Homo sapiens: one gene and its partners. The protein of the gene in region 1 interacts with the protein of each later gene in a biochemical or structural test. Each region holds a gene or a part of one and is shown in the gene's direction. Other genes may lie near its edges.

Region 1 (7,602 bases):
CATATATACATTCATATATACATTCATATACATTCATATATACATTCATATATACATTCATATATACATATTCATATATATATTCATATATATTCATATATATTCATATATATATTCATATATATATTCATGTATATATTCATATATATACACATTCATATATATACATTCATATATATAATATATATATACACATATTGATATATATATACACATATTGATATATATATACACATATTGATATATATATATATACACATATATATATATACACATATTGTGTATATATATATATACACACACACACATATCCGGCTAGTGGTGTTTTTGTTGTTTTTTTCCTGAAGTTCTAAAATGGAGAGTAAAGGAAACTCTTAAGTGCAGCCTCATCTACTGGTCTAACCCAGACGACTTTTTTTTTTTTTTTTTTTTTTTTTTTGCAAAAAACCAACACAGGTGGTTGCTCCATATGCCTTTTTCTCCTCCCTAGGCAGGCTAGTACTCACTGCTAGTCTAGTCCTAATATTGTTTTGAACCCTAGGAGGCTTAGTCTTCAGAATCATTTTTACTCTGCCCTAAAGTGGAAGACACCCCATTCATTCTACAAATATAATACAGCAGGCATTGTTCCAGCAGCTAAGGCTTGAATAATGAACAAACTAGACAAAAGTCCTTGCCCTTATTAATATTACATTATAATGGAAGGAGGCAGATAGTAAACACAACACACAAGTATGATAAATGTTATGTTAGTTAATGATAGGTGCCATGGACAAAATCAAGCAGAAAGGGGGATAAGGAGTATGGGAGTCCCTCTTGGGAAGGGTGTCAGGGAAGGCCTCCCTGAGGAGGTGACATCAGGCAAAGACAAGAAAGGAGTGAGGGAATGAGCTATAAGGTATATGAGGGAAGAGCATTCCAGGTAGTGGAAAAAGCAAAGGCTTGGAGCTGAAAGTGTGCTTGGGGCATCCCAGGAACAGTAAGGAAGGCAACTGGTGAGAGCCCACAGAGTGAGAGGTAGAGGAGGAGGTGAAGGCAGATAGATCAGGGGGGGTTTGGCAGTAGGCAAGATTGTCTAAGTCCTCATAGTGAAATGGGAAAGTCATGGAGGAGTTCTAGAGGGCCACTGAGAATGCTCTATTAGCACAGACTGCGGGAAGACAAGAACGGAAGAAGGGAGGACCAGTTAGGGAACTTCCTTAAACCAGGTGGGAAATAAGATGGGTTAGACTAGGCTAGTAGCTAAAGAGGTGTGACAGTATTTGGAATGTGAGTATATTCTGAAGGTGGAGCCAATAGGATTTTCCGTCCAATTGTATCTTGGGTGTGAGAAAGGAGGCAAGGACTCCAAGGTTCTTGACATAAGTGGAAGAATGGAGTTGTCCTTTCCTGAGATGGGGGAGGGCTGCAGATGGAGCATGTTTTAGGGCAAAAAGGGGGAGCTGTTATTCCCTTTGTGGTTACCATGGCTTCCCAAGGTCGCTGGGGCTCTCAGAAGGCCATGATTCCAAATTAGATCAGTGGTCTGGACTAGGCCATGACTGAAATACCTTCTTGGGATGACAGCTCCAAGGAATATGTGCCCCAAGGGCTTTGTCCTCCTCCTGAGCTATCCTGTTCCAAGCCAGACTTGCACTGAGATATTGCACCAAATGGTTTTAAGTCTGTTTTTTTGTGTATATAATCAATAGGCAAACACAAACACACACACACGCACACACACACACACACACACCCCTAAAACCTTGAAAACAACTTAAAAACCAGGGTTTCCTATTAGAGAACTCACTGTCCTCCAAATATCAAAATTCAATTCAACTCTACATTTGCGGGGCTGTGACGTGAGCAGGAAGACACTGGTTCCTAGATAATGCCAGGCTAAGGCTGGTATAGAAACCACATCAGGGCCAATCTGAAACGTGGCTGATTGAAGAATTTACGTAATCAGGAACTCATTGGATGAATGATCCAAAAGGAAGGGCTGCATTTAAAACAGTAGTCACTATAGCACCTGCCGCAGCCATACGTAAAATGGAATATTGCAATAAAAATACGGAAAGGTGACGGAAAGCAAAAAAGCCATATTAGTGGGAGGAAAAAACAGAAACTGATTTGTAAGATTACTTCAAAAGGCTAAGAAGAGACTGACAAGAAATTTTAAAAATCGTGTCCTTAAACGGGAGCAAGAATCTATACAAGGCAACAAGGCGAGAGCGCAGAGCTGTTTATTTATTTATTTATTTATTTTTCTACCCAGCTCACAGGGCCAGCGGGTAGATTAGAAAGAAAACAACCAATTGCTGCCAGGCGCGGTGGCTCACACGTGTAATCCCAGCACTTTGGGAGGCCGAGGCGGGCGGATCACGAGGTCAGGAGATCGAGACCATCCTGACTAACATGGTAAAACTCCGTCTACTAAAAAATAGAAAAAATTAGCCGGGCGTGGTGGCGGGCGCCTGTAGTTCCAGCTACTCAGGAGGCTGCGGCAGGAGAATGGCGTGAATCCAGGAGGCGGAGCTTGCAGTGAGCCGAGATCGCGCCACTGCACTCTAGCCTAGGCGACAGAGCAAGACTCCGTCTCAAAAAAAAAAAAAAAAAAAAAAAAAGAAACCAATTGCTAAAGTAGAGTAGCTAAGGAATCAGAACTTGTTTCAAAGTAAGCGAAGTAGTGGCCAGACTAGGTGACTCAAGGCATGACTCAAACCCGACTCTGGAGGCTGTCTGTCAGCTCCCGGAGGCGGGGGGCGCGGTGTCTAACACGTTTTAGGAAAGTACCAGGCTTGTGGAGGGCGACAGGAAACCTCCCCGGGAGATCGGCCTGGGGCTCCTCCTGCCCTAGAGCCTGACCTCTCACTCTCCGTACCGGCAGCGACTTCCAACCTCCTGGCTTCCCCTTCCTCCGTTCGAGGCTCCCCACCCCTCGTCTTCCATCCAGCGTCACAGGGCGTGTGCGTGTTGTGTGCGAGACGCGGGTCTCCTCCCCCGCCGCCCTCCGCCCCGTGCTCCCAGCCACGCGCCTTCCCGCCCCGCCTCCGCGGCAAGCCGCTCCCTTCCCACCCCGCCCGCGCCCGCCGCCCGCCGCCCGCCTCCCGGGCACGCGCTGCACGAACGGCGCCCGGAGCTGGTCTAGGCAAACACCTGTCCTGCCTTGGCTCCGCGAGATTTGGGGCGAAAGCTTAGGCAACAGGGGCACGTTCTCGCGAGGTTTAGGAAATTTCCCACGGCCGTGTTGTGTCTGAGCCGAGTAGTGGAAGGCGGTGGGAAGGAGGTGTAGCGTGAGACTGGACTGCCCGCATTGGGTACATGCGCAGTGCCGCTCGCGCGGGCCGCGCCAATCCTGCAGCGCCTTCAACAGGTTTCGGGCGGCGAATTCCAGTTCTCCGGGTTTTGGGGCTCCCTGCGGGAGGCAGTGCTGGATCTGGGAATCTCTAGGAAAGGAAAGAGCAAAGGAGGGGAAAGATGGGGGGCTGCAGGTAGGAGGAGGGGGCGGGATTCGGGCCCTTCACCCTGCTGTTCCATGCCCGGTGGGGCCAGGTTTGCCCGGGGGCTTCCGGGATCAGGCCGCCTGAAGCGCGATTCGGGCAGCCGGCAGCGTCCTCGGCTGTGCCAGGCCCTCGGGTGGCCCGGTTCCCTGTGCAGTAGTGGTCTCAACACACACCTGGGCTCACACACGGTGGTGGCTGCGATGGGGTCTTAGAGAGGCCATGCAGCACGCGAGCGGCAAGAGCTTTGATCGGGTCCTCTGGGCAGACTCGGAGGTGGGAGAATGTGGCTCTCAATTCCAAGGCAGTTTTCCCTTCTGGAGAGAACTACTCCGCGCTCTGGCGTGTGTCTGCGAGGTGGCCATTAGGGGTGTCTTTGCTAGAGGCCTTGGCTTGACCTCATTTCACACCCAAGGAGAACGCTAAGGCGAGAGAGCTCAACTGCAAAAGTTTTCCGCTTGAGGAGCTCTGGAAGGGCCTCCTCATTAGCATGGGGGGGTGTAATGAATGAAGACAGTCCCCGACGTGTCACTTGCCCGAACCCCAGACATCTCTGGCGCTCCTGCACCAAACGCCGAGATTAGCATAAAGGAGGCGCCCAGGGAACGTTTGAATGAATGAAAATAGCTGGGAACCCAGAGTGAGCGGGAAGCCGCTTGGAAAACACCCATTGAGGAGGTGTTTCATCTAGGCCTGTGAAACGCAGCCCATTTTCCCAGGACCCCTCCTCCCTTCTCCTCGGCCCCGCCTCCTGACCCCTCCATTCCTCGTCCCCGTAGTAATCCCCTCCGGTTTTCCTCAGTCTCCACGTACGTCCCTCAAAGCGCGTCCTAAAACCCGGATAACCGGAGCGCTCCCCATGGACCACACGGAGGGCTCGCCCGCGGAGGAGCCGCCTGCGCATGCTCCATCGCCTGGGTAGGTTTCCAGGGAAGGCAGCGAGCAGGATCCCCTACTCTGCGGGCGGCGCGAGGCGTCTGGCTCTTCGCGGCGGCGGCGAGGGGAAAGGGAGCGCGGGGGCTGGGTGGAATCGAGGAGTGAGGAAAAAGGGAAGGGGCGGGGGAGAGGGACCAGGGAAGGCGTCGGGGGGAATCTCGCGAGGGTTGGAGTTTTGGCGAGAGTTTGTGGAAGATGGCGCCTGTTGTGACAGGGTAAGTCTGAGGGAATCGGAGCGCCGGGAACCGGGAAAGTTGCGGGCGTCTGGCAGCTCACGGCGGGCAGCGGGTTCGGGGGCCGCGGCGCGCTTGGCGTTCGGGGGCCCGCGGGGGCGGCGTCGCGTGCGCCGAGCGCGGCGGCGGCGGCGTGTGGCCGTGCGCTGCCGCTCTGCGCTGCCGTGGCTCAGGCTCCAGCGCGTGAGGGCGGGCGGCGGCGGCGGCGGCGAGGCCGGCGGGTGCGGGCGTGAGTGCGGCAGGGCGCGCGGGGCCCTCGGGCGCCGTGCCTCCCGCGCGCCTCCAGCGGGCTCTGCCTGGGGGCCCCGTGCATCTTTGTTCCTCGCGGCCGTTGTCGCCGCTTCGCCCCGCTAGTGCCCCCGGCCCCGGGCGCTTTGTCTTTCACCGCTACCCGCTGCGACTCTCTACCCCCGGCCCTTTGTTTCGCCGCCTTGGGCGCTTTGTCCGACCCGTGGCGTCCCGCATCCCCTCTCCATCTCCTCCCCTCCGCTGTCCTTCCTCCCGTGCCCCTTTGTTGTGCCACACTCTTGTCGTTAGCCCAGTGACCTGCCACAGCCCGGGCACCAGATTTCTGCCTTAATTGTTCTTCCATTGTCTTTCTCCTGTGGGTCCCCTCTCACCTTTCTGTATGGTCCTGGATCACCCCCCGAGGCTTTGTCTCCCCCATCCACGGGCTTATTCTCTCGGCACCCCCTTCCTCTCCCGTCATCGGTTGATTTATCCACAACCCACGGTGTACGTCTGCTGAACTGTCTCAGCCCCGGGGACTCCATCTGCTGCTTCTAAGTGCACACAAGACTCTACGGTTTGTTGTTTTGTGGGTCTGAAAGATGCATGGGATACTTAGTTTTCTCCTCCGCACCTCTTTTTCTCGGGATTTCTTGTACCCTCCCGCCCCCCTATCGCCACCCCTTTCTCTCGGGATTAAAGCGTCTCCAATTTTCATCGCCGTCTTTTTAGTGCCGTGGGTTGTTTTGCTTGGAAACAGTAGCCTTGGAAAAAGATCTGGTCTCTTGGTGGTTCTTGCGCCCCCCGGCCCCCGCCCCCCTCCTGGTTCCTGACGGCGTAGGCCAAGGGCAGCTGTCTGTCGAAGCTTTGCAATCTAGGCTGCCTGAGGATGATTGGAGGGTATCGTAGGACGGTTAGAAGGAGGCTCAAGATGTATATATGTGTTTTTCTGTTAGTGTTTGAGAATAGTTTCAGATAGCCACAATGGATATTCATTTGGCGTGTGAGTAGGAGTTGAGTGAATTTCCATGTTAAAAACTTGTGAGTGTTGGGGCGGAGAATTTCAGCATTTTCTAGAAATCTGGATTTAGAATTTATCAGTAACTTCTGCCTCATAAGGAAAAGGAGAGGCATTCCGCTTGGGAATTTTATATAAATGTTTTATTTTTTCTTAATCATTAGATAGTTTACAGTTATGTGCTTTTTGCTGCCCTGTAGATGCGTGACAACCCTTCTGTCCCATCATTGGGGTTGAAATGAGGACAGCACCGAAGAGTGCAGTTTCTGGTCGATGAATACTGCTTCTAAGATCTTTGTGGAAGATATTAATCAAATGCAGTTAAAAAGTATACGTATAATATGTATATTATATATATATATACACACACACACGTAATAGCCTGTAGTGAGATTATTTTAAAGACACTTCCTAGTGTTAAAGAACCCTTGAAGTGTTTCGAGTTCTTATTGTTTTGGTAATGCTAAAAGCTTGGGGTTGTGTGAATGGGGGTGGGGGGTGTGGTGTGATGTATTCTAATGACTTGAGTTATTCTGGGTGCTAGGAATAAGAGTTATTATATTTACCAGGATTACTATGCTGAAGGTATTCTTCAAGAGTTTGTTTTTTTTCTACTGGTTGATCTCTACTTTTAGAAGGTATGTTACCCATAAAATCATTTGGAGTGTCATTTCATTTACAAACTGAAGTTCTACAATAGTGAAGTGTTGTTGATAGGGGACATACGAGATCTACTCTAACGAGTATTGGAGCATTGGAAAATACTTTTTTTTCTGGCTGTGATTAGAATTAGTAGTTTGAGTTTTAATTAATGGAAAACCATGTTTTCATGATTGATACATAAGTTTTTTTGTGAAAATCTGCAGTCTGGGTCGCTTGAGTGGGTTTTACCAATAATCTTATGTCTCCCTTACTTGTTCTTGTACATAATCATTGTTTTGAAGGTAAAATCTTGAGCTCACTGGTTCTCTGACTGGGAGCAAAGTGTAAATACTGTGTAGTAATGGAAGGTATTTTGCTCTGACTTGTACCTGTAAGAATGATTACACAGACATGATAAAAGCGCTTTTACCATTTGAGTTGCGTTTTTCTTTCTAAATCGTGTAATACTTTTACTTACATGATTGGTGAAATAAAACTGCTTTTAATTAAATTATAACAGCAGCATATTTCGAAATCTGGATGCGTTGTGGCTGGAGAACTTTCATTCTGAGTATTAACTGTTAAAGCTTTAAATTTTATTATCCATGCATATTGCTGATGGATCTGTGAGTATATTTTCAGAAAACAGGAGACTTGCAATATTTTCAAATCTGTACTAATACACACTTGTAGGCATTAGATTTTAAGCAGTTAGGTTTGTTAAAAAGTTATCTGTTGTCCTATACCAACAGATTTCTATCAATGTTTTTTTTAAGTGGGTAAGATCAAAATTGGTTTGGTTGACAGGCCATTCTTGCCAGATGTAATTCATTAAATAACCTTTGGCACCCTTGATGGGTAAGGCATTAGGAAAAAATTGTTTCGTTTGAAAGTTATTATACATCTCATTCTTCTGTTCATTTTTAGAAATAAGACCCAGGACTTGGCTTTAAAGCATTATTTTGCATTTTGCTTCCTCCTAATACTAAATTTCATGTTATCTCAACTAGGGGCAGTATTTTCTCATGGATTGACTAAAAGTTGTTATTTTTGGCATCTGGCT
Region 2 (7,503 bases), on another chromosome or scaffold:
CATCTCTCCTTCGTGCAGGCAGCGTTCTTGAAGACAAGCACCAAGGCATGGTCCATTACCATCTGCTGGGCCGCGACCTCAGCTGGGCGAAGTTGAGCGCACATTTTTGACGTGACCCACTTTCTGGGGTAACTCTGTCTCTCTCTCTCTCTCTCCCTGTCTTTCTCTCCTCCCCATCCTCCTGAAGTCATGTTCAGTGCTGCCCCTGTCCTCTGCCATCTCCATGGCAACGTTCACGTGGATTTCATAGAACAGAAGGTGTTTCTGCTGGAAGGGACTTTGAAGATTGGCTCCTCCTGCCCACTTATTTCATGGAGAGGAGAGCAGGCCCAGAGAGGGAACACCAGATGCCTGGGGACACACAGCAAGCCAGGGACCCCACCAGGCCTCTGGCCTTCTGACACCACTCCCACCCAAGAGCACAGACAGCTGAGATCCATAGCACTGACTTCTCAGGAGGTGTTCTGGAGCAGCTGAGAGAGGGATGGGCCTCTTTGGGGCCTTGTCACAGTCCCGGAGGCCAGCCCTTCCCACCCTCTCTCCTCCCCCGTGTGCATCTGTGGGACAGCCTGGCCACAGCAGCCTCTTCCCTCCCCTCAGGTGTTTGGCACTCTGGAGCAAGCCAAGAAGTACATGCTGGACAACTACTCAGCAGTCAGGTCACCATGGAGGACGTCTTCCTGAGCTTCGCATGCCCTGTGCCCCTGGTCCAAAGCGAAGACCAACGAGAGCAAGCAGAGCAGGTGGGCTCCTCATCGTGCTCGCTGCCTCCTTCCCTGCCTCCCTCTCGGCTTTCCTCTCAGTCTCCCTCCCTGCCTCCCTCTCAGCTTTTCTCTCGGCCTCCCTCCCTGCCTCCTCCCTCAGAGCCTGTCCTGCTGTAATAAGGACAGACCAGTGCCAGGTTGGCCCAGGTGTGCATGGCCTTCCCTGGGTTTCCAGGGCGTACAGAGGCAGCTCTCGACCTAGCTAGCTCAGCACAGGGCTGTCCCCCTAACTGCAGTGCACGGAGCAGAGTGGGGCCCACTGGAGAACTTAAGAGGCCCGCTGGAGAACCCAGGTGCGTTTCCTTAGAAAGGGATGCCCAAGTCCCACCTGAGTAGCCTGTGGTCTTATTGAGACCTGGCTGTGGAAGCAGCCTCAGAACATCTTGCATGTCCTTTCCAAGGGCGGTGGCCATGGGGTGACTACAGTACTAACCATGACCCGACCAGGTGCCAACTCTGTGGTTGGTCCCCTGCAGGCATTGCGTCATTTGATCACATCACCCTCAGGCCCGGCCTTAAGGGGTCTGTCCTGGTCATCCCCTTGCTCATGGGCAAGAAGTCTGCAGGGCAGAGGGAAATGCTCACCCAAAGCTTGCGCTCTTCCTTCTCTAGAATCCCCTGCCCAGATGGTTTGTCCATCCAGTGCACTCCCTCCCAGGGCAGGCCATGCCGCCCAACGCACCCTGAGATGCGAGATGCAGCAAAGCAGTGGCTCTGCAGAACTTCGGGTAGAGTTTGGATGGGTGCGTGGAGGTTTCCACACATGTGTGCAGATCCCTTGGAAAGCAGGATAGAGCCAGAAACAGAGAGGAGGGTGCCCGTAGGCCGCTGGGGGCTGGCTCCCATGGTCACATGCAAGAGTGAAGCTTCATGGAGACCATGATTCTAAACTCACACCTGGCCTCACAGGTGGTAATGTCACTGTTCTTCTGAAGGAAGGAGGAAATAAATATTGACAAGTTTGCTAGCCTAAGTCGGGATGTCACAATATTTAAATATTTGGATGTGTGGGCTTTCATCCTCTTCCCTGGCTCCTGCAAATTTAGGGCTGCATGTGATCCTATATCCACCCATGAAGTGGACAGCGCCCCACCTCCCACATGGGTAGACTGGCTTAGAGGCAGCCAGTAACTTCCCACATCAACAGACAGGGGAGCCAGGGTTGCACTGGGGCAGAGGTTCTCGCAGTGGGGTCCCAGCAGTAGCAGCACCATCAGGAAACTTGTTAGAAATGTAGGTTCTTGGGCCCCACCCAAAACTTACTGAATCAGAAATGCCTGGGGCAGGGCCAGCAATCCATGTTGCAAGAAGCCCTACAGCAGGTACTCTGGCGCAGCTCCAGCATGAGAACCACTGAGCAGAGGCCCCATGGGCGCCAGACCATCACACTGTCCAGATGCAGATGGATGTGGCCACATGCCTTTGTCATGTACACTCACCTCTCTTCTGAGACGGGCTCCATCCCGTGGCCTTTCTCTCTCTGTGGAGTTCACTCTGCCCCTTGCCACAGGCCCCTCAGCTCCTCTCTGGGAAGTGCAGATGCTGGTCTCTGCCCCTTCTCAGCCAGGACTCAGGAAAGGGTCATGCACAGGCCTTGCCTATGGTTCCTGCACCCCTTGCCCAGAACAACGGCGTTGCACACCCATGGTCGCCAACCCACCCTCCTCAGTCCTCGTTTCAGGTGACTGCTCCCTGTGATGAAAGCCACTCCCTGGGCTCCCATATCCAGCTCTCATTCCTCCCATGCCCCTCTCTGCCTCCACTGAAGGCCCATCTTCTTCTCTGAATGTGGGATTTCTCAGGCTCCCAAGCTACTTCACTTTCCCTTCTCTCCCCTGCCCCTCACTACCCATAACGTTTTCAACCGACACCTCATTCCACCAGGAATTTCCCTGAGCTCCTAACAGTTTAGACTTTTCCAACAAGGTCTCACCTTCCTGAAGCCCAGTGGGAAACGGGCCCACACCCTGGAGGAGCCACTTATCACCCCAGGGCAGCCCTGGAGGCTCCCACTGCCAGTGCAGGGTGTGGGGCGAGAGCAGGCATGGCTGCAGTCAAGACAACTCCTGCTCCCTGAAAAAGAAATTTGCCTGTCCATGTTGAAAGGAGAGTGATCAGGACACAAAGCACAGGATAGAGCTAAACAACAACCTAGGGACCAAGGATGCTGTTCTAGATTCTAGAGGCAGCTGGTGTGGCTAATGTGCTCATGGCTGGCTCTAGTTGATTAATCCCTTCAAGATGCTATGGAAGCTAACCCTGAAAGTGCACCTCTGCCCTAGGGGGAGACAGGTAACAGTGACAAAGTAGGAAACAGTAACCCAGGAGGACAAAAGTGAGATAAGGGGATAATAAATCTGGGGGCTGAGAACATGGGACATCTGGGGAGCAGGCCCCAAACTCGCTCAGCCTGTCCTCTCTTCACCCTCCTTCACCCGCTTCCTGATTCCGGGACAGGGAATATTCCCAACTTCCAGACCCTCTCTGGGGCCACGGACTCTTCTGTACCCTGTGCTGTGATCACCTGTTTACTCTGTCTCTTGCCCCAGGCCGGCTGAAGCCTGCACGCCAGGGCTCCTGTCTGTGTGCCCAGGGCAGGCCCAGTACTTGAAGGAGTTCTATGGGGACCCGGAAGGATGGAAGGGTGCAGACTGAGGGAAGCGTGAGGGAGGGGTGGGCAGCCTTGGCCCAGGCCCCTGCCTTCCCCAGGAAAAGCCCCCTCTGTCCTCCACCAGACAGTCAGGAGGCTGCGAGTCTTCCCCTTGACAGCCTGTGCCGTAAAAGGGGTGCGGTGTGGCTGACTCCTGAAGGACAGCTCAGATGGGCACTGCCCAAGACAAGAGTGAGCAGATACGACACTTCCCGCGGCGAGCAGCTCCAGGTAGCAGCCGAGGAGGCCAGACAGGGGGCAGCATCTGGCCAAAGTGATGGGGAGGGCTTGCCCCGGGGCTGGAGCACTGAGGCGTCCAGGGTGCGCCACGTTTCGCGGGAAGAAGGGGTCAGCGTTCCGCGGGGGAGACTTCCCAGCGTCAGCTCCGACCTCCTCTTTCTCTACCACGATCCCGGCCAGCATCCCCGCCCAGCAGCGGCTCAGCCACAAACCCAAGGGTCTCCACCTGAAGCAGGCGGCGGAAGGGAAGGCCGTGCAAGCTGGGGGTGAGGGTCGCGGGCCCAGGAGCGACCCCGGGACCCGGGCAGGGCACGGCCTCGTCTTAGAAGCGCCACGTCGAGGCTGTCCCAGGCTGGATCACGGCCGCGACTGCGAGGGACGCCAAGGAGTCCTCTTTCCCCTGGCCGCAGGCGTGCGCCTTCGCAGCCCATCTGGCACCGCAGATGCCGGTCGCCGGGGTCAGCGGCGAAGCCCGAACCCATGCGGCCGGGAGGGGACGCCCACAAACCCCTGCCCGCCGGCCGGGAAGCGCTCCTACGGGACCCCAGCCCCGTTGGGGAGGCGGGGCGGCCACGCGGGTTCCACCAATCAGCGGCCAATGTTCGAATTCGCGTCCTGGCGCGGCCAATGGCGGGTCCCGGAGCAGGCGGGGAGGGCGTGGAGGGCGGTAAATGAGGCGAGCACAGGGCGGGACATGGGCGGGGCCGGCGGCGGCCCCCCCGGGCAGGCCAATGGGAGGGCCGGGTGCGTTTGAAAACTGGGGTGGGCGGCGGGGCGGGGTCTGCGCCTGCGCGAGGGCTACGCGCGCTCCGGCCGGGGCGCGGGCGCGCTCTCAGGCGGGCTCCGGCGGCAGCGACGCGAGCGCGGCGATGGGGAGCGGCGGCGGTGAGTGCGGGGCGATGTCCGCTGGTTTCTGCCCCACACCCCTTCTGCCTGCCCTGCGGGGCGGACGGTGGGTCCCGCGGGAGGGGAGGCCCTGGCGGCCTGAAGAGGGCTGGCTCGAGCTCTTTAACCCGGGGCGGATGTCGCGTCCCGCGCAGGGAGCCCCGGCGGCCGGGCGCGCGGTTTAAATGCCCGGCGGGCGCCCGAGCCCCTCGGAGCCTTCCCCCGCGGCGACGTTTTCCGGCCCTTTCCTGGGGCAACGATCGGGTCCCGGGGCAGCGATCCGGCGATCGGGTCCCGGGGCGGCGATCGGGTCTCGGGGAGCCAAACACCAGCGCCTCCTGGTCGGGGAAAGGGCTGCGGAGCGCGTGGGGGCGAAGCGATCCCGCAGCCCGGCCGGGCCCTGACCGAGCCTCAGTCCAGCGGGGCCGTGGACCTAGCTCTGTGGAAAGCAGCGTTCGGCCCCGCGCGCGTTGAGGCACAGGAAACACGAACTGTGGTTTCAGCTATTATCATAGTATCTGTCCTGGAGCCGGAGAATGAGGAATATTTTATGGAGAGGTCTATAGAATCTTTGAGAATTCGTCGCCCTGGAATACGTTTGGCTTTTGCAGCTGATTTAATTGCTAACAGGAAGACCCCGGTCAAGAGAGGGGAGCCGGGAGCAATCGCTAGGAAGTCCTAGCAAGGCGGGGAGGGATTTGGGCCCACAGAGGGGAGTGGCGCTTCCTTTCAGGACTGGAAGGAAGGATGGATAGAAAGGTAGATTTGTAGATGGGGAGGCAGGATCCTGAGGTTCCTGTCTGAGGGCTTCTGTTTCCCTGTGAAATAAGGGCTAAGGTCATCTGCTTAGAGTGAGGAAGGGGTTGCTGGAGTAGGAGTTGGAAAATCCGGCTGTGGGAAGAGGAGAGAGCACATCTGAGAAGCATGTCCGGGCTGCCTGCCTGGTGGGTGGAATGCCCGTCTCACCTTTAATGATTGCATCTGTACACAAACCTACAGGTCTAGGTTTGTGTTGGGACCTGAGCAACAACCTTACTGCGTAGCTGTCAACTCCGCATTCTACAATAGAGGGCACACTGAGACTCTGCAGAGCTGAGACTTGGACGCACACTGCCCCGGCCTCCAAGTCTGTGGCTTCTCTCCAGGGCCGACCCTTCTAATTTGGACTTGAAAACCAGACTCTTCAAGCCCACAGATCTTTATTGAACATTATGCACCTTGGTCACGTGTGCAAAAAGCAAAGCTATCCAGCAAAGGCCCCAGGAGTTTTCCTGAGAGTGAAATAGAAGGAAAACCGTCCTCAGCTTCGGCAGCTTTTTCCCCTTCCTGCCTGTCATGTGGGCTCTGGATCAGAAAGTTTCCCAATAGCCAAGTTACATGACATGCGCTATTTGCCATAAATATTTGTTGAATATTTGAAAATGAATGATCTCTTCTGTAATTTGTGCAATGCCACTCCTTTACATAATCTTTGTTTGGGACAAGAAGCATAGTTCCATCTTTTGTGGCACAGGGAATAGTAACCATTAGATCATCTTCAGATGTAACTTTTATCCTTTTTTTTTCCCTTCAAGGGTGTGTATATAGAATAATTTTTCATCTTATCAAGGCTTCTGTCTTTTTTTCCTTCAGTGGTCCACTGTAGGTGTGCCAAGTGTTTCTGTTATCCTACAAAGCGAAGAATAAGGAGGAGGCCCCGAAACCTGACCATCTTGAGTCTCCCCGAAGATGTGCTCTTTCACATCCTGAAATGGCTTTCTGTAGAGGACATCCTGGCCGTCCGAGCTGTAAGTCCCTGCATGAAAACACTATGAGCCCTAGCATTGTTGATTATACCATCAGGCCTTGTGTTCTTAACTGTCAGAACAAAACTTTGGCTAAAAAAGAGGTTGGGGCAGAGGCCAGGCACGGTGGCTCATGCCTTAATCCTAGCACTTTGGGAGGCCGAAGGGGGGTGGATCACCTGAGGTCAGGAGTTCCAGACCAGCCTGGCCAACTTGGCAAAACCCCCATCTCTACTAAAAATACAAAAATTAGCCGGGCGTGGTGTCTCACGCCTGTAATCCCAGCTACTAGGGAGGCTGAGGCGGGAAAATTGCTTGAACCTGGGAGGCAGAGCTTGCAGTGAGCCGAGATCACATCATTGCACTCCAGCCTGGGCGACAGAGCGAGACTCTGTCTCAAAAAAAAAAAAAAAAAAAGGAGGGCAAAAAGGAAACAAGGATGATATCATTACCAGATGCTTTCTTTAAGACATTCTGATTACAGAAATTCCTACTGCTGTCTCCTAGCACACTAAAATTGCCTCTGTTCATTGCAGTGTCAACAAAGAAAGTACCTTTTTTTTTTTTGAGACAGAGTCTCGCTCTGCCACCCAGGCTGGAGTGCAGTAGCGCAATCTCGGCTCACTGCAAGTTCCGCCTCCCAGGTTCATGCCATTCTCCTACCTCAGCCTTCCGAGTAGCTGGGACTACAGGCACCCGCCACCACGCCCGGCTAATTTATTGTATTTTTAGTAGAGTTGGGGTTTCACTGTGTTAGCCAGGATGGTCTCTATCTCTTGACCTCGTGATCCGCCCGCCTCGGCCTCCCAAAGTGCTGGGATTACAGGCATGAGCCACTGCACCCGGCTGAAAGTACCCTTTTATGGCAGTGAAATTTGCATCCCTTAAAAAATAGGATAGTGTTTAAAAGAATAAGAATACATTCTTGAGGACAAATTCCATGTAACATTTAACACTGAAATGGACTCTAGGAGTTATTTTCTAGATATTGGAACCATAGGCTTACTTTGAGTGACTTAACCTAGAGTATATAGTGGATTCATGGGGAAATGCCAGCAAGAACCCATTTTCTGACTCCCAAAGCCACCTCCATTGCAGGTGCGACACACTTTATGGACCCCAGGGGGTGCTGAATTTCCAATGGCAGTGGAAACTTTGGTGCTTAAAGTGTTCACCTGTG
Region 3 (6,996 bases), on another chromosome or scaffold:
CGTGAGCCACCAGGCCCGGCCAAAATGCTTATATTTTAAGTGCATGTTTTCTCCTGAAACAGCTTAATTTTAATAGCTTGGGACCTGACTTGTAACCAAATTCTTGTTAAAATCTGATAACTATCCTGTCCTGTTTAAATGGAGATATTATTTTACTACTCTACTGGCTGGGTTAGCATTCAAAGCCTGAGTTGGAGGCTCAGACGCTTTTTCCATCTGAGCTTTCATTACGCATGACTGAACTCTTTGAGCATGTCTAGCATGCTAAATACAGCAGCTCCTCACAGTGTGAAAATAAAACCTGATTAAAAACAAATCTATTTTAATTCCACTTTGCAAATGGCTCTGCTTTAATGTCAGCTTTCTGAATTATCTTTAGTAATCAAATGAGGAAATTCACTTCACCATCCGTTTATCATAGATAAATCACAACCTACTTTTTGATCTTTTTCAGTGAGCATCAATTATTGTTAAATAAAAAAACATCAGAGAATAACAGAGTGGGTTGCCTTTCTATTGAAAACATAACAAAGATACATGCTTTAAAGAAGTTCTGCCCCTGTAAAGCTTTGTAACAGGAATACAAATGGAGAAAAGCTTTTCTGGTGTTTTTTGATGCATTGTCAGCAAAAATGAAAAGCACTGAGAAAATCAAAAACTTGATTTGGGGCTGAGCAAAGGGCATGTACTTATCAGTTTTGTTATTAAGAGCTTTTGCAATAGAAACAGTCAACCAAAAAAAAAAAAAAGCAAGAAACTTCATACTTGACATGCAATCACTATATCCTGATTTGACTACAGGACCTGGCTATAATGGTGAAAATGGTTTTTTTTTTTTTTTTTTTTTTTTGAGACTGAGTCTCACTCTGTCGCTCAGGCTGGAGTGCAGTGGCACGATCTCGGCTCACTGTAACCTCTGCCTCCCGGGTTCAAGTGATTCTCCTGCCTCAGCCTCTCGAGTAGCTGGGATTACAGGTGAGCACCACCACGCCAGGCTAATTTTTGTATTTTTAGTAGAGGCCAGGTTTCACCACGTTGGCCAGGCTGGTCTTGATCCCCTGGCCTTAGGTGATCCGTCCATCTCAGCCTCCCAAAGTGCTGGGATTATAGGCGTGAGCCACCGCACCCGGCTCTTTTTTTTTTTTTTTTAAAATCATGATTTTAACAGAAGCCTCCATTCAAGGCGAGACATGCCTTTTATTTCTCTAATTGCGAGACACTTTTCTGAATCCTCTTGTCAGTTGCACCTTTTAATACAATTGAGGTGACACTGTTCTTCATGGTGACACTGGTCTTTCCCAAGAGGTTTCAGCTAATTCAGTCTATCAGATTTTACATCAGATTTTAAAATTTGCTTCAAACTTGGGTGCTTGTATTCAAATTCATGCTTCATAGAAAAATGCATATCAGTTCAACAGTTGACTAACTGCAGCCACGTTCACAGTACTGAATAGTTCATGAGTTTCGTTAGTAGGGTGTTAGCTTGACTTTCCTTATGTGATAATTGTGACAGAGAAATGGCCAGATGTAAATAGCCAATTTTACTTTTTTTTTTCTTTTTTTAAGAGAGGGGTTTCTCCTATGTTGCTGAGGCTGGAGTGCTGGGGCTTTTCAAGGCACAATCATAGTGCACTACAGCTTGGAACTCCTGGACTCAGATGATGCTTCTGCCTTAGCCTCTCCAGTAGCTGAGACTACAAAGAAACAATTTAGTTATGCATAGGTGACCTGAGATATTAGTGCCATTGGTTTTGGTGACAATATTTTCGAATTCAAATAGTGTCGTTTGTAAGTTAGTTTGTATTTAAGGAGATAATCGATGAGGCCAAGTATTTAAAATTGGCTGGGCTGGTGGTTCATGCCTGTAATACCAGCACTTTGGAAGGCTGAGGTGGGCAGATCACCAGGTCAAGAGATCGAAACCATCCTGGATAGCATGGTGAAACCCCGCCTCTACTAAACGTAAAAAAATTACCTGGGCGTGGTGGTTTGCGCCTGTAGTCCCAGCTACTTGGGAGGCTGAGGCAGGAGAATTGCTTGAACCCGGGAGACGGAGGATGCAGTAAGCAGAGATGGTACCACTTCACTCCAGCCTGGTGACAGAGTGAGACTGCGTCTCCAAAAAAAAAAAAAAAAAAAAAAAAAAAATCTGGCTTGCACCTGAAGCAGCACACCTCTGGTATTTCTGTGTATTTTTATTATAAATAATTTTATTTTTCTCTCGATATAGTTACCTTAATTTTATGGGTTTTCCTTGAATTTCTGTAAATTGGCCTTTATATAAAAGTTCAACTGGCCGGGCATGGTGGCTCACGCCTGTAATCCCAGCACTTTGGGAGGCCAAGGTGGGCAGATCACCTGAGGTCAGGAGTTCAAGACCAGCCTGGCCAACATGGTGAAACCCCGTCTTTACTAAGAATACAAAAAACTAGCCTGGTGTGGTGGTGCGCGCCTGTAATTCCAGCTACTCGGAAGGCTGACGCAGGAGAATCGCTTGAACCTGGGAGGCGGAGGTTGCAGTGAGCTGAGACAGCGCCATTGTGCCCCAGCTTGGCTAACAAGAGTGAAACTTGGTCTCAGGAAAAAAAAAAAAAAAGAGGCTGGGCGTGGTGGCTCAAGCCTGTAATCCCAGCACTTTGGGAGGCTTGAGGCGGGTGGATTACCTGAGGTTGTGAGTTCGAGGCCAGCTTGACCAACACAGAGAAACTGTCTCTACTAAAAATACAAAAATTAGCCGGGCATGGTGGCGCATGCCTGTAATCCCAGCTACTCAGGAGGCTGAAGCAGGAGAATCGCTTGAACCCAGGAGACAGAGGTTGCAGTAAGCCGAGAACACACCATTGCACTCCAGCCTGGGCAACAAAAGCAAAACTCCGTCTCAAAGGAAAAAAAAAAAAAAAGAAAGTTCAACTGTAGGTTTCAAAAGCTCTTAGGCCTGGAAAGGCCAGAGGTCTAATTCCTTTCTCTGTTTAAATATTAAATTATGGTCTGAGGGGAACAATATTGGATTCCTGTCTCATTTCCGTTTTATTCCTTCTATACCACAGCGATCAGCAAGGGTATCTTGCAAACGGTTTCGCAAGATTCTATATAAAAAAGTTGCTTAGGCCAGGTGCAGTGACTCCCGCCTGTACTCCCAGTACTTTAGGAGGCCGAGGCGGGCGGATCACCTGAGGTCAGGAGTTCAAGACCAGCCTGGCCTACATGGTGAAACCCTGTCTCTAATAAAAATACAAAAATTAGCCAGGTGTGGTTGCGGGTGCTTGTAATCCCAGCTACTTGGGAGGCTGAGGCAGGAGAATCGCTTGAGTCTGGGAGGCGGAGATTGCAGTGAGCCGAGACCGTGCCACTGCACTCCAGCAGCCTGGGCAACAGAGCGAGACCCCGTATTAAAAAAAAAAAAGTTGCTTCATGTTACAAGCCAGTGACTCTTGGATGGGATGCGTTTCTGAAGCCGTCGCTGTTCAGCAGAGCGGTGAGAAGGGCAACCTTTTTCTGATCGCTTTCCCAAGCAGGCAGGAATCTAAGTGTCCGGAAACGCCAGGAGCTGGCCGCCAGGTGAGCGGAGGACGAAGGGGTCCTGACTTCTAGGGGACAGGCCTTGGCAGCCGCTTTGACCCGTAGCCCTGTGGAAACCAATTGCATTTCTCTTCATATCTTCCACCAGGCCGGGGCCTGGGGTTGCCGCTGGAGGGGCTAAAGACCGCTCCTGCTTCCTCAGCCGCCCCTTGCCCGGCGCGGGAACCCGACCGAGAGCCCGCCAAGCAGCGGGACTCCACTAGCAGCTGCGCGCCTGCGCACCGGGGCCGAGCGCGCGAGCGTTCCTTCCCCGCCTGTAGTCCCTCACTTCGTCGCCCGGTCCGCGCGCCTGCGCGCCGGCTGGGAGGAACTCAGCTTCTCCGCCTTGGCAGGCGGGAGGACGCGCGCGCGCCCGCGGCGAGGGGGAGGCAGTGCGGCGGCGGGAGTCGGGCCGCGCGCGCCAGTGGGAAGCGTCCGGCTGCCACAGCGCCAGCTCCGTCGTAGTCGCTGCCGCCCGTGTCCCGCTCGCCCCTCCTCCCGCTCCCCCGCCCGCCCCTGCCCGGGCGCATGCGCTGCCGGAGCGCGAGGGTCGGCTTCGGGTGTGTGGTGGCGGCAGAGCTGAGCTGCGAGGCCCGAGAGTCAGAACCTGGGGGAGAGGGATGGTCTCTGCACGGGGGGGAGCCGGAGGAGCCGCCGCCGCTGCCGACGCCACCGCCGCAGCCGCCGCCGCCGCCGCCCCGGCACCCGCCTCCCGGCGCTGACGGTCTCGTACGAAGCCGGCGAGGGGGAGCCAGCAGCGGCGGTCGCCGGCACGCCGCCCAGCATGGTCCGGGAAACCAGGCATCTCTGGGTGGGCAACTTACCCGAGAACGTGCGGGAAGAGAAGATCATCGAGCATTTCAAACGGTGAGTGACACGAGGCCCGCGGCCGCGCTCGCTCCTCGGGCGCCGCTTCCCGCCCCGGCCCGTTGCCGGCCCCTCCCGGAGCGCGGAGCTGGTGAGGAGGACTCCGGCCCGGACCCACGGGCGCTGTGGGACCTCGTCAGCCGCTCGGCCCGCGTCGCGGCGTTGGGCCTCGGGTGTCGGCGGTGCGGGCGGCCAAGCCGCGCCGCCTTCGAAGAGCCCGCGGGGCCCCGGCGGCCGCGTCCGTGACGAGGGAGGTGACCGAGGCTCGGCCTCCACGCAGCCGGCGCCCCGGGGCTGCCCTCGCGTCAGCCCGGGAGTCGGTGGGAGATGCGCTGGGCGGCGGGGTCGCGTCCTTGCGCGCAGTGCCCGGCCCGGAGCAGCCGGGACCCGAGCCCGCCCGACAGCCGGGTCCGGCGCCGCCACTCCAAGCTGCTCTGCGGGCGCTCGGCAATGTCTGACTTCGGGAGGGTTCCGTGCGAAGGGAAAGGCGGTGCGAAAACAGAAGTCGCAGTAGGTACTGTGGTCGCGTCGCGGACCCGGAGAGACCATCTAGGACCTCTCCGGAGGATTTGCAGCCTTGAAACTCACTGGGAATGGCAAACGTTTCTCGTTTTTGCGGGGCTGGGTGGAGAGTGGTGTGAAATAAGTTGGTGCGCCCGTTTGGGCTTCCTCGTCCCCGGCGGAGGAGACCGCGTCTGACAGGAGGTTGCTAGCCCCGGCGCCCGTAGCCTCGGGTCGCACTCCCAGGCCGCCCTAAGACCCTGGTGCCCCCCACCCCTGAATTCCCGAATCAAACGGTAAAACATTCCAAACCTTTTACGATGAGAAGATGTAGCTTAAAAAAAAAACCTCCCCTGAATATTTTTGTGAATTATAAGAATAAATGTTGTCGTTGATACATCTTATTGAGTAGCGTGTAGTGCGTTTTCTTTGTGAAATGCCTGTGTACCGTAACAGATAGGCCTCCGCATAAAACACTTATTAAAATGACGATTGGCTTGGACTTGGTGCAGATTCAGAGGGACCATAGCAAATCTGTGGTTGTCCTCGAAAATGACAGTTTATTCCGATATTTAAGACCCTGGAAGGTTTTAAGTTTGGCTTTTAATTTCCCTTACTATGTAGTGAGTGAAGGAAATTATGGAGCGTCCTCATTAATGAGTCACCATGGGAAAAATAGATTGCGTCGCTCGCTTTGAGCCGCTTGGATAAGGAAATGGAAGCAGCGGCGGCGGAGCTCCTGTCTTTTAAATGGAGGATCATTGATTGTGTTGGTGGTTGCTGTTACTGGGGCATTAAACCCTCGCCGCTGGAGCGCGCGTCTGCGCGTGTCCGCGTGTGAAAAGGAGCCGGGAATCGTGGGGCCATTCATAACCTGCTTGAGCTGTCCTCGGCAGGCCGGGGGGAGGTGCGCGCTTCCAGGGACTCTCCCGGTGTTTACTACGTCGTGCCTGAGAAACCAGGCGGGGGCGGGGGGAGGCAGGGAGCAAAAATTCACCTCTGTGCCCTAGGATGAAGGGGAGACCACGGGCTGGATTGGGAAGCAGATGGGAACTTTCTCTTCCTGGCGCTGCTCCACCCCTTACCCGCCCCCCACCTCCTGGCTTCTCCTCGAGTATCGTCAGTGTTTTGATGGAAAAATCATTTAGGTGTACATTATTGGAGTGGAAAAACCACTTAGATGTGCTCACTTTAATCCCCTGTGGACTTTCTCTGTAGGTCTCTGCCTGGGAAATTCGTATGCACCGATGTACAAGCACGTGCATTGCAGCATTCGCTCGCTCCTCAGTGTTATGTGCCTAGACGTGTCATTTCTCATTATGCAGATTCCAGAGACATTGCATGCTTATGGCTGGGAGTTTGGCCCCTCTGCAAGATGAGGGGGCAGAGAGAAGAAAGAGGAAATCGTCCCAGGCAGCTTTGGAAGGGTTCTTAGTGGACGGTGCTGCGGTCTGGCTTGTGTGAATGACTTTCTAAAATGGCGGCCAGGACCCACTTTATGTGGGAATCAGCAGAGCCGATCTCAGAATGCACAGAGGGAGGAGGGGGCGGAGGATTCGAGCTGCCTTGGAAAGCGGCAGTCTGGAGGAACATTACTGTATTAAAAACGGCTTAGCTGGCAGTTTGCTCACGACTGCATTCAAAGGAGTATCTTACCTATTGCAGAGTAAAAGCAGATGCTACTGATAAAAGCAGGTTATTTTAAAACTAAGCAGATCATGTGTCCCTGAAATTCTTTTATTTTAAAGGTTTTTTTTTTTCATTTTTAAACAAATCTATTTAGTTGTTTAAATAGACAGTACATTTTTATGGGTTCAAAGCATGTGAAAGGTATACAGAGAAAAATCTCCACCCCTGACCCTGGAATTCCCAGTTGCCACACTTCCTCCCCTCACCCCCCAAAATCCAGGTAATGTCTATTTCTGGTTTCTTGTTTATCTTTCTGCATGTACAAGAAATGTTCCTGCTGATCCAGCTGTGGAGCTAAGTGGACCTTGTTTGGAGGAACTCAAGGCCTTTTATCCCTATTGTGGGATATATTTTGTAAAATGTGTGATTGCTACTAGGAGT

The links. The genes of interacting proteins can lie anywhere in the genome.
Region 2: the proteins of RBPJ (region 1) and CCNF form a complex in vitro, tested with the Homo sapiens proteins (one study listed by BioGRID).
Region 3: the proteins of RBPJ (region 1) and SPEN form a complex in vitro, tested with the Homo sapiens proteins (2 studies listed by BioGRID and IntAct).

Annotation. Positions count from the first base shown.
Region 1 is NC_000004.12:26,316,416-26,324,017, forward strand, and holds the start of RBPJ (recombining binding protein suppressor of hairless), read left to right. Parts: upstream 1-4,598; 5' UTR 4,599-4,613; coding exon 4,614-4,633; intron 4,634-4,812; exon of another isoform or gene 4,813-5,456; intron 5,457-5,750; exon of another isoform or gene 5,751-6,473; coding exon of another isoform or gene 6,474-6,535; intron 6,536-7,602. UniProt on the Homo sapiens protein: Transcriptional regulator that plays a central role in Notch signaling, a signaling pathway involved in cell-cell communication that regulates a broad spectrum of cell-fate determinations.
Region 2 is NC_000016.10:2,424,959-2,432,461, forward strand, and holds the start of CCNF (cyclin-F), read left to right. Parts: upstream 1-4,488; 5' UTR 4,489-4,523; coding exon 4,524-4,539; intron 4,540-6,171; coding exon 6,172-6,326; intron 6,327-7,503. UniProt on the Homo sapiens protein: Substrate recognition component of a SCF (SKP1-CUL1-F-box protein) E3 ubiquitin-protein ligase complex which mediates the ubiquitination and subsequent proteasomal degradation of target proteins.
Region 3 is NC_000001.11:15,843,726-15,850,721, forward strand, and holds the start of SPEN (msx2-interacting protein), read left to right. Parts: upstream 1-3,981; 5' UTR 3,982-4,342; coding exon 4,343-4,425; intron 4,426-6,996. UniProt on the Homo sapiens protein: May serve as a nuclear matrix platform that organizes and integrates transcriptional responses. In osteoblasts, supports transcription activation: synergizes with RUNX2 to enhance FGFR2-mediated activation of the osteocalcin FGF-responsive element (OCFRE).